3 linked regions of the Homo sapiens genome follow. The protein of the gene in region 3 purifies or fractionates together with the protein of the main gene of each other region. This does not show direct contact. Each region holds a gene or a part of one and is shown on either strand. Other genes may lie near its edges.

What was found.
Region 1: the proteins of CFAP298 (region 3) and SERPINA12 purify together in Homo sapiens (affinity purification with mass spectrometry; 3 studies listed by BioGRID and IntAct, with this or other methods). This does not show direct contact.
Region 2: the proteins of CFAP298 (region 3) and SERPINB2 purify together in Homo sapiens (affinity purification with mass spectrometry; 3 studies listed by BioGRID and IntAct, with this or other methods). This does not show direct contact.

Annotation. Positions count from the first base shown.
Region 1 is NC_000014.9:94,486,779-94,489,624, forward strand, and holds the end of SERPINA12 (serpin A12 precursor), read right to left. Parts: coding exon 2,842-2,846; intron 717-2,841; coding exon 525-716; 3' UTR 501-524; downstream 1-500. UniProt on the Homo sapiens protein: Adipokine that modulates insulin action by specifically inhibiting its target protease KLK7 in white adipose tissues.
Region 2 is NC_000018.10:63,900,953-63,904,528, reverse strand, and holds the end of SERPINB2 (plasminogen activator inhibitor 2), read right to left. Parts: intron 2,790-3,576; coding exon 2,647-2,789; intron 2,126-2,646; coding exon 1,961-2,125; intron 1,629-1,960; coding exon 1,224-1,628; 3' UTR 641-1,223; downstream 1-640. UniProt on the Homo sapiens protein: Inhibits urokinase-type plasminogen activator. The monocyte derived PAI-2 is distinct from the endothelial cell-derived PAI-1.
Region 3 is NC_000021.9:32,605,677-32,609,410, forward strand, and holds part of CFAP298 (cilia- and flagella-associated protein 298), read right to left. Parts: intron 2,041-3,734; coding exon 1,973-2,040; intron 1-1,972. Other genes in the region: CFAP298-TCP10L (uncharacterized protein LOC110091775), read right to left, coding at 1,973-2,040. UniProt on the Homo sapiens protein: Plays a role in motile cilium function, possibly by acting on outer dynein arm assembly. Seems to be important for initiation rather than maintenance of cilium motility.

The sequences.
Region 1 (2,846 bases), on a different chromosome or scaffold from region 3:
GGACCGACTTTGTTAAAGCACTGAACTAGCTTCCTTGGAGCCCCAAAGGGAGGGGCGGGACCTTCACTTCAGAAATAAGAAGACAGACTCAGAGAGGGTTTGTGGCTTTCCCAAAGATACCTCATTCCAGGATTTGAACCCCAGTCTCTCACTCGAGACCCCAGGTACTTGCTGTGGCCCATACCTTCCCCAAATTATCCACCAACAGCCAGTCAACCTGGGGCAGGGCTGTGGGGGAGAAACATTTGTTTACTAAATCACAGAGTCCCTCTGCCCGCTGGAGGGGAGAGGAGAATGCCACCAAGTGGGCGGGGGTGGGGCATTGCATCCCAGCATTTGAATGGGCAGGGAGGAAATGGGGCACAGGACTTCTAGAACTTGCAGTTTTGCTCATTCGGGCTGTCTAGGGAGGTGGTGACAGGGAGAGACTAAACTGAAATGTGCCTGTGACTTCCATCTCAGGAAGATGGAACATGTTCAACCCCAAGCCATGTTCGGGGTCTGTGGCAAGCAGGAATTCTCCTTTATTTTCCAATAGGGTTAACAATCTTTCCCAGGAAGAGCACGGAAGGTATTTTCTCGCTGTAAATCAGCAGCAGATAGGGTTTGTCTATCTTGACGACGAGTGGTGTCTCCATGGGCAGAGTCTGTGCTCCGGTGCCAGCGGCCCCTTCCGTACCCCTCTCATCCATCTTCAGCTCAGCCTTGTGCACAGCCTACGGAAGCCAAGGGCAAAGTCAAGGTCTGCCAAGCTCCTTGGCGACCACAGTGGGCCGGAGGCCCAGAGAGGATCAGAGAGGAAGACCACTTGGCCCAAGCCATCCAGCACAGCAGTAACTTGGTTTACTCCAGGGTTCCTGGCTCTTTCGCCATTAATGCTGGAGAATATTCGACAAGCAGATGCCGTGTGAAGGAAAAGATGGTGCAGGGGGAGCATCAGTTACGGGAGTCGGTGGGGGGAGAGATGGAGTGGGGTTTGCTTCTCTTTCTCATGGGTTACAGGGAAGCATCAACCATAGCCGTGGCAGAAAGGTCTACTGGGCTGTAGCTGGGTGAAAGTGAGGTGGTGGTACCCCCACCCTGAAGCCTCCAGCACCTCCTTTCATCCACCTGGTGGATGGTTAAGAGGGAGAAGGATTCTGGATTAGCTCTTTGAGATGACTTGCATCCCAAATCCACTCCAAAGGCATCAACGTCTGTAAACAGGTGATCAGTACTGGGAAACTAACGGGCATGTGTGAAATCCTGGCACATTTCTTGCTAGCCTACAAAATTCTCACAATTTTACTTGCAGAAAACAGGACAGTATCCTGTGTTACAATCACAGCTATCAGCAAACGTAACTACAGAAAGAAATGAGCCATTAAACTCAACAAGACCTTCAGAGCTGGTGTTAAATGTTTGTGGGAAGTCTGTGGCAGGAAAGCTCAAAAGTGAGAAAATTCTAGTAACTATGTTTCTTATGTCAACGTGAAAAATACAGTGGAATCTGTGCCATCTGATTCAGAGCAGCGGGCTCAGCTTGGCAAGCTGGATCCTTCCCAGACTGGCTTGAACCTCCCACTTTATCTCCACTAAGCACCCAATCCCCACCACCCACTACTCCATGATATCCAAAAACCCCCAGCCTTGGCCACACTGCTGCACCCATCCCCGCACCCATCTCTGCTTGTTGAAATCTTTCCCCTCCTTCAATGCCTTTTTAACCCCAAAGTAGGGTTGCCAGGTGAAATACAGGACATCCACTGAAATTTGAATTCAAGATAAACAATGAATATGTTTTAGTGTAAGTGTGTCCCGTGAAATATTCTGAACATACTGGCACTAAAAATATTATTCATCATTTATCTAAAATTCAAATTTAATTGGGTATCCTGTATGAAATCTGCTAAATCCGGTGACTCTACCTATATGGTGCTCTCTTCTTGCCCCAGACAGTCAGGTGCTCACCTTTGCCAGGGGCCACAGGCCCCTTTGCTTGGTCATCTCTTCCTATGCAGCATATGCTTATGCCAACTCATATGAAACATGTGGCCTTGGGCGCGGTGGCTCACGCCTGTAATCCCAGCACTTTGGGAGGCCAAGGTGGGTGGATGACCTGAGGTCAGGAGTTTGAGACCAGCCTGGCCAACATGGTGAAACCCTGTCTCTACTAAAAATACAAAAAAATTAGCCGGGCATGGTGGCGGGCGCCTGTAATCCCAGCTACTCGGGAGGCTGAGGCAGGAGAATTGCTTGAACCTGGGAGGTGGAGGTTGCAGTGAGCTGAGATCGCACCACTGTACTCCAGCCTGGGTGACAGTGCAAGACTCCTTCAAAAAACAAAATAAAAGAAAGAAAGGAAGGAAGGAAGGAAGAGAGAGAGAGAGAGAGAAAGAAAGAAAGAAAGAAAAAAAGAGAGAGAGAGACAGAGAAAGAAAAAGAAAGAAAGAGAGAAAGAGAGAGAGAAAGAGGAAAGAAAGAGAGAGAGAAAGAGAGAAAGAAAGAGAAAGAAAGAAAGAAAAGAAAGAAAGAAAGACGGATGTGGCCTTTGAGAGAGGGTCTGGGTTAGACCTAGACCAGTTCTAGGCCTGATAACTGTTCCAGGCCTTGATCAACGTTTGCTACATTGAATTGATTTCCAAAATAGCAGCAGTTTTAAAGACTGGAAGCATGAGGCTGGGGGAGGTTATGTGGTTTGCCCAGGATCACGGGGTTGGTAAGGGGCACAGCTGCATTCATGCCCGCCCCGACTGGTGGGTGGAGTCTCGGCTCTGACAGCCACTGTGACCCTGGCTCTGGCCCCGGCTGGGGGAAGGCCCCTGTGCTGCAGGGAGTGGAGTCCAGGCTAGGCAGGCTTACCTCGC
Region 2 (3,576 bases), on a different chromosome or scaffold from region 3:
CTTGAGGCCACTTTTTTAGCTACCATGTTCTAGTGCATCAAGCATCCCTGCCTGCCATCAAAGGGAGTGTGCTGCATTTCCAGGATCCAGCCGCACTTCTGCAGCCAGACTCTGTTGTTCAGGCCCCCAACCTACAATTTGCCTTATTTCTCAGGTCTTCAATTATGTTCTCCTCTGCCTCTGACTCATTCAAAAGCATTACTGCTATTAGAAACAAACACACTTAGAAAGAGCCATCTTATGTTTCCCCTCCTGCTCTTGCACCCAACCCATCTCCCATCTTCACTGCTTGCAACTCTGAGCTCAATGACTGAGGCCTTCTTCTGTGTCTGGACCACTGGACTTGGTCATTAATCCTGGTGTCCTTAATGTTTAGACAGTGGTTTCCCCAAAGGACTCTAACCTAGACTATTCTGAATTGCTATGTCTTTGCTGCTGTGAGAAAGCAGCTCTAACCCATTTTTCATACAACCCCATCCCACTGACCCTCAACATTGGGTCTTTTTGAATGAAGGTTGTTATGTCCTTGGCTCCTTCATCCTGTCTATTTTTTCTGAGTTCTCACAAGTGAGTCATAATGCTCAACTCCTAGGAGTCAAGGTCTATGATCTGCAGACCTAATGAAATGACAACAAATGTATTGTTGTTTGGAAGCAGGTTTATTTATTATATACTTGCAATTGAATATAAGATACAGACATATATATGTGTTATGTATTTCTAGAAATGCACATAACATATATTTGCCTATTGTTTAATGTTTTTTCCAGATATTTATTACAGAAGGGCATGGAGGGATACCTACTTATTCTTCATTATGAGAACAATTAAAGGCATTTATTAGATAGGAAATTAACAGATCATCTGCTTCTATAACTTTATTAGCTACATTAAATAGGCAGTGAGCAATAATTTAAAAACTCACCATTATATAAAATAATAAATAACAAAGTAAAAGTTAATGTTATAAAAATAAACTGATAGTAAGGAAAATCTAAATGGGCATGATCCCATTTTAGAAGACCAAATGATTAATAGGGTTGTCATGTTATAATAGACAATTGTCTAATTATTTCTGTGTTTTTATTTAGTGGGTAGCAGAAGTTGTTCAGAAGAGCAGAAATATGTAGAAAACATCTCTAAATTTTTGGCAATTTGAAATAGCAATTCTGAGGCACACAGCTCATCTACAAAAATCTTTTGCAGAAGCAGCACGCTTAGTTTTAGGGTGAGGAAAATCTGCCGAAAAATAAAATGCAGTTGGTTATCTTATGCATAATAAGAAAAAGAAAAGGATGATCTGCCACAAACTGTGGGCCTCCATGTCCAGTTCTCCCTGTCATAACACCTCCTGTGCCAGCGGCTGCTTCAGTGCCCTCCTCATTCACATCCACCATGGCTTGGTGGAACACTTCAGAAAGAAACAGGTCATTCCTCTCCGACATCCCTGAGAAATTGGCCCGTCCCTTGTTGAAGGCGTCCTCCATGCCCATGCTTCTCAGAATGGATCTGAGTTCATAATGCTCTTCTAATTTGAACTGGGGTATGTATACCTCAACTTCATCTTCAGCCATTTTGTCTTTGCTGGTCCACTTGTTGAGTTTGTCATAGGTTATTTCACTTTCCAGCTGCAAAGCAAAACAAAACAAAACAAACAAAAGAAAATACAGCAAGTATTAGAAAGAAGGAAAACAACTTTAAGTCTAATATTAAAAATCAGTGACTTTACTATATTGTGGGTGATATAGAAAGTTAACAGATTGGTCAGATTTTTACAAGAAGGTAACACGTATGACATAGTTAAGGCTTTGAATGAAATGTAGAGGCATGCCATATTTACTATCAACTGTTTCATATATTTCCATGAGAAATTACCACACCATTTGTAAGGAGTATATATTCATCTCATCTCACGAAAGGTAGGTATAGCCCCAGAAACTTAAATATCTGAATGTCTTACCAGCTCCAAGCCAGTGGACACATCGGCAATTTCATCTGGAAGCAACAAGAACATGCTAACATCTCCAGCATATGGGAGTTCTAGAATCTGAGCCTTTAGGTCTTCTATGTATCCAATGTTTAGCTTTTCACGCAAGTACATCATCTGTACAGGTGTGCGCTGAGCCTAATATTATTAAAAGGTAAAATATGGAAGTCGATTATAAGATATCAAGAGATTTACAATTAGACATAAAGGAGGATTGGTTCTACTTTAGTGTAGGATAAATGTGATTTTTTTAAATCAACAAAATAAATTATTTGTACATCCTTACAGTGGGTACTCTGATGTTATTAGCTTGTTCAACTTTATACCCATTATTTAGTAAGATGGACAACAATGGTAATGACAACCATAATTCTAAAACACTTGTTTAGTTCTTACTATGGGCCAGGAACCGTGCCATGTCTCAATATTTACAGCCCTTTGAAATAAGTGGTAGAGCCAACGTTGGAGTCTGGGCATGTATAATTAAAAAGCCACAGTCTTCCCCTTTACCTATACTGTTTCTAAAGAGTCAATCAACTGTCCAACATGCATAACTTCTAACTAGCAAGTCTATAATGAGCGGTCTCTAATTTTTCTGTCTATATCTTGTCAAAAGCCCTAAAATATATGCTAGGAAGATGTATTTTGTTGTCTCATACCGAGTTTACACGGAAAGGATAAAGCCCATTTAGTTTCTTCTCAAATGGAGTTTTCCACTTTCCTTTGAAGTAGACAGCATTCACCAGGACCATCCTGGTATCCCCATCTACAGAACCTTCAGGTAACAAGTTTGGGATTTTGCCTACAGAAAACATAACATATATTTAGGTTTCATAATCAAGAACTGTGAAATTACTTACTGAATCTTCTGAGTAGCCATCAAACTAAATTCTTCAAATTGCAGAGTTGTTAATCTTCAAGCTAAAGTTTTTTAGGTTTATTTAAAGCAAAATTAAAATTGAAACAAATTTCCCAAAAGCTTGCAAAATCCAAGAAAAAATGAAGAAATAATGCATTTAAAATTTAGACCGCCTATCAAGTTTGGAATGGAGATTTTCACTCCCTTTTATATTCTTTTCTCAAAGCTTGGCAGTTGAAAGTTATTCAAATCAGAGGGAAGTGAAAGAGAGGTTCTTAGGGAATATAATAGTGCCTTTCCAAAATATATCATGTACTGCTAGATCTGGTCTAGATAGTCTGAGGATCTGACTTACTCATTTATTCAAAAACGTTTTGTAAAAAATATACTAGACCTAAATTAAGAGTAGTGCAGATACAAGAGATGAGAAAGGAAGAATTATCCTGGATGAGCCTAGAACACTGGGGGAGACATTCAAAATCAGTTGTGAAACCCTGTGTGATAACTTCTGTAATTGAGCTAAATAATATATTGAGTACTATGATCATACAGAGAAGGGAGTGAAGGAGTAAGCCCGAGAAGATTGACAGAAACAATGACAAATGAGTGTGGTCATTTAAAAAAATGAAATTGGTTTAAGAAGCAGTTTGTTTATAGTTAGTACTCGCTCTGCAGTATTCCAAGCATCAAAATATATTATTTTGATACTCTATTAGGTGGGTTTTATTAG
Region 3 (3,734 bases):
AGTCAAGCTGGACACAAGTATGGGTGGCCTGGGGACCTCACGTGCAGCTGGTGTCTGAAATAAGAGGAGTCTTGTTGGTGATCTCACCCTTTAACTTTTAGGTCTGATGCTAACTCCAGGCAGTTAGTGTCAGAATTGAAGGATCTGCCCTTGACCTGTGGGGTCTGTGCTGTCTCTGAGTAGTTAGTGTCAGAACGGAATTGAATTGACTGGCAGGACCCCCAGTGGGCATCAGAATGCAAAAGGCTACAGGAGAGCCTTAAAGAAAGCCACAGCTGTGGAAGTGAAAGGAAGAGGTGGACTTAAGAGGCATCATGGGAGCAGACGGTACAGAACCCCACTTCAAACCTAGAGGTGACAGAAGGGAGAAGTGTTGAAGATGACACTGAGGATTTGCCCTATAAAACCAAGACACTGTGGTTCTGTTACTGGAAACAGAGAAGCTCATAGGAGGTGCTGATTCTCAGGGACAGAACAGAGAGGGAGAGGAGTGAGGAAGCAAAGAGCTCATTTCTAGAAAACTGGACTTCAAAGTGCTGACTGGGTGTTCAGATAGAACCATCTCACAACCAGCTGGAAATTCAGGTTGGAAGTGAAGCAAGATGTCAGGGGGAAAGGATGGAAGCTTCAGAGTTATCTGCAGAGGGTGGAATTTGCATTTGGCAGAGTAGATAAGATACTGAGAGAGGAAGAAGACCAAGGATAAAAAGTACTTTCAGAAGTACACAGGCAAAGGGGAGAAGTGAGGCGACCGAGAGAGGAGTTCCACAGCAAAGTGTGGGGAGAAGGGTGCAGAACAACAGCCAGACCACTGTTTTCTTGCCATGGCCTGAGACGTGCTCACATGCCTAGATGCCATCACCACGCAAACGACGGGCTCAACCAGGGCCTCTCCTGTAGAGCTTCATAAAGCCTTTCCTATATTAACAGGCACAGAGCTTCAGGGCAGCCTTTGCTGAGGCTCTTCAAAGATTAGTCAAAAGCTTGGTAAGTTTGAGAAATATTGGTTTAAAAATAACAGTTCTGCTGAGCAAACCAGGAGAAGCAGAAGAAAAAGTGGTGATCAGTCAAGAGACTTGCAGTTGAGAGCGGTAGCAACTAATATCACCAACACACAAATACAAGCAACAGATACAGATACCACTTCTTTCAATAGCCTTAAATTCTCTTCCTCCAGATACACATTATCTGTATATCAATGGTATAAATTTACGCTCCTCCCTCTATAAACTAGCCTTTGTATAAAATGCTGAAGACAATTACAAAAAACCATTTATATCAAATACATATTAAGTCAATCAAGTGTCTGGAGAGCTACTCGATGGCCACAATATTCAAATCTCCCCTACTTAACTTTGTTAAGTTCTTCAAAAAGGTAAAAGAAATGAAATCAACATTTGTATTATACATATTTGTATTATACGTGAACCTATATTTACATAAGCCAACAAAAATTTGTGTCTGCCTGGAGGAACGGAGAGGCCTCTGGGCAACCGTCAGGATTATGAAAGGAAAAGCTACAGCCTACCCCAAATACGCTTGTTTCCTTTGCCTCCGGAAGGCTGAAAGAGAAGGCTGGCTGAGAGGCAACTCTGGAAGCCAGAGTTGGAGTTTTATCTCAAAAGACAAGTTTTAGGCCGGGCGCGGTGGCTCATGCCTGTAATCCCAGCACTTTGGGAGGCCAAGACAGGCGGATCACCTGAGGTCAGGAGTTCGAGACCAGCCTGACCAACATGGAGAAACCCCGTCTCTACTAAAAATACAAAATTAGCTCGGCATGGTGGTGCATGCCTGTAATCCCAGCTACTCGGGAGGCTGAGGCAGGAGAATTGCTTGAACCCAGGAGGTGGAGGTTGTGGTGAGCCGAGATCGCACCATTGCACTCCAGCCTGGGCAACAAAAGCAAAATTCCATCTCCAAAAAAAAAAAAAAAAACCCAACAAGTTTTAGTGCATCATTTAAAAAAGCCAACCTTAGATATTATTGCTTTGGCTTCTTCTATAGTCTTCTTTAACACTTGCTTCATCTTCTCATTTGGAGCTATAAAAATAAAAAGGAGAGAGGGAGAAAGAGCTGTCAAATACAAAGCCTCTTCTGAAATACCTCAATCCCCTCTGTCTGAGTCAGGGGGTAAATGAACTGAGAGAGAGTGCGAGTGTGGAATTTAGGGAAGAGAAGCAAGAAACCTGGCTGCCGGAAGTTAGGTGAAGACCTCTTCCCAACAGCAGAGACCTGGAGTGTGCTTTACGCAAAGTGGCAAAGGCTACAAAAAACAGAAATGCATGTCGTTGGGTAAACAGGGCCGGTGAACTTTTTCTGGAAAGGGCCAGAGAGTAAAATTTGAGGCTTTGCAGGCCACACAGTCTTGTTGGGTGGGATAACTCAGCTCTGCCACGTAGCACAAGAGCAGACAATACTTAAATAACTGGGGTAGCTGCGTCTCCTTACAATTTTATTTACAATAGGCAGCTGGCTAAATTTGACCTGTAGCCCATAATTTGGTGACCCCTAGATCAGGAAAAAATAATAACTTGAAAGCTTAGAAGCCAAAAAAAAAAAAAAAAAAAAGAAGAAGATGGAATGCCCAAACCTAGGGAAAATGGGGCAAGTTGAAACCATACATTCCTAGTAAATAACAGTATTAATTAGACATTGAAAATATTAGAAACACAAGATTGTATTATAATAGAAGTGGTTAGGCTGGGCGTAGTGGCTCACGCCTGTAATCCCAGCACTTCGGAAGGCCAAGATGGGTGGATCACCTGAGGTCAGGAGTTCGAGACCAGCCTGGGCAACATGCTGAAACCCTGTCTCTATGAAAAATACAAAAATTAGCCGGGCATGGTAGCAGGCATGTGTAATCCCAGCTACTCTGGAGGCTGAGGCAGGAGAATCACTGGAATCCGGGAGGCAGAGGTTGCAGTGAGCCGAGATTGTGCCACTGCACTCCAACCTGGGTGACAGAGTAAGACTCTGTCTCAAAAAAAAAAAAAAAAAAAAAAAAGGTGGTTAATTTAAGAACATATTACATATTGGTTTAATGATGAATAATGAACTGTTAACTGGTTCTCATATTTTTTTTCCTCATCTTACCACATCTTCTTACGTAAGAAAGCTGTGGAAGACAACCATTTTTCAGGTTAACATTGAAAGGAAAAAATACTAGGAATTCTTACTATCCCTGATATTTAAAAAAATGTATTTTTGAGCTGCTAAAGGCCTTGCAGGAATACTGTTCTTTTACTCCTAACAGTGTTTTAGGGCTGTTCAATTACAGTGTTTTAAATGGCGCTTTTAATGCAGGTTAAAAAGAATAAGCTATCAAAAAGGATTATCATCAATTCCACATGATCAGCCAAACACTGAAAGGAGAGGAATTTCCTCAGTGTTTTGCCGTGTACTGAAGTGCTCTGCCCCAGAGAGAAGCATGTCCTTGATCAGGGAAGTCCATGTGCTGACATGCTTTCCCTTTCCTCTTTCACACAGTCCATCTCGAAAGATCCCCCAACATTTGCGAACAGTAACAAAACACAACTCTGAATACATTGCGGTGAGGACCTGCCAACAATTATTAGGTGGAAACACATGAAATTGCCAATACTCAACCATTTTTGAGCTACAGAAGGGAAAGGGTCATTTCATCTGGTTCGTCGAATACATATAAAAGCAAGCTGCAACTTATTAAAGAGCAAGACAAAAGCTTCCTTTATCTACCTAATTCATCCTAGATTAGA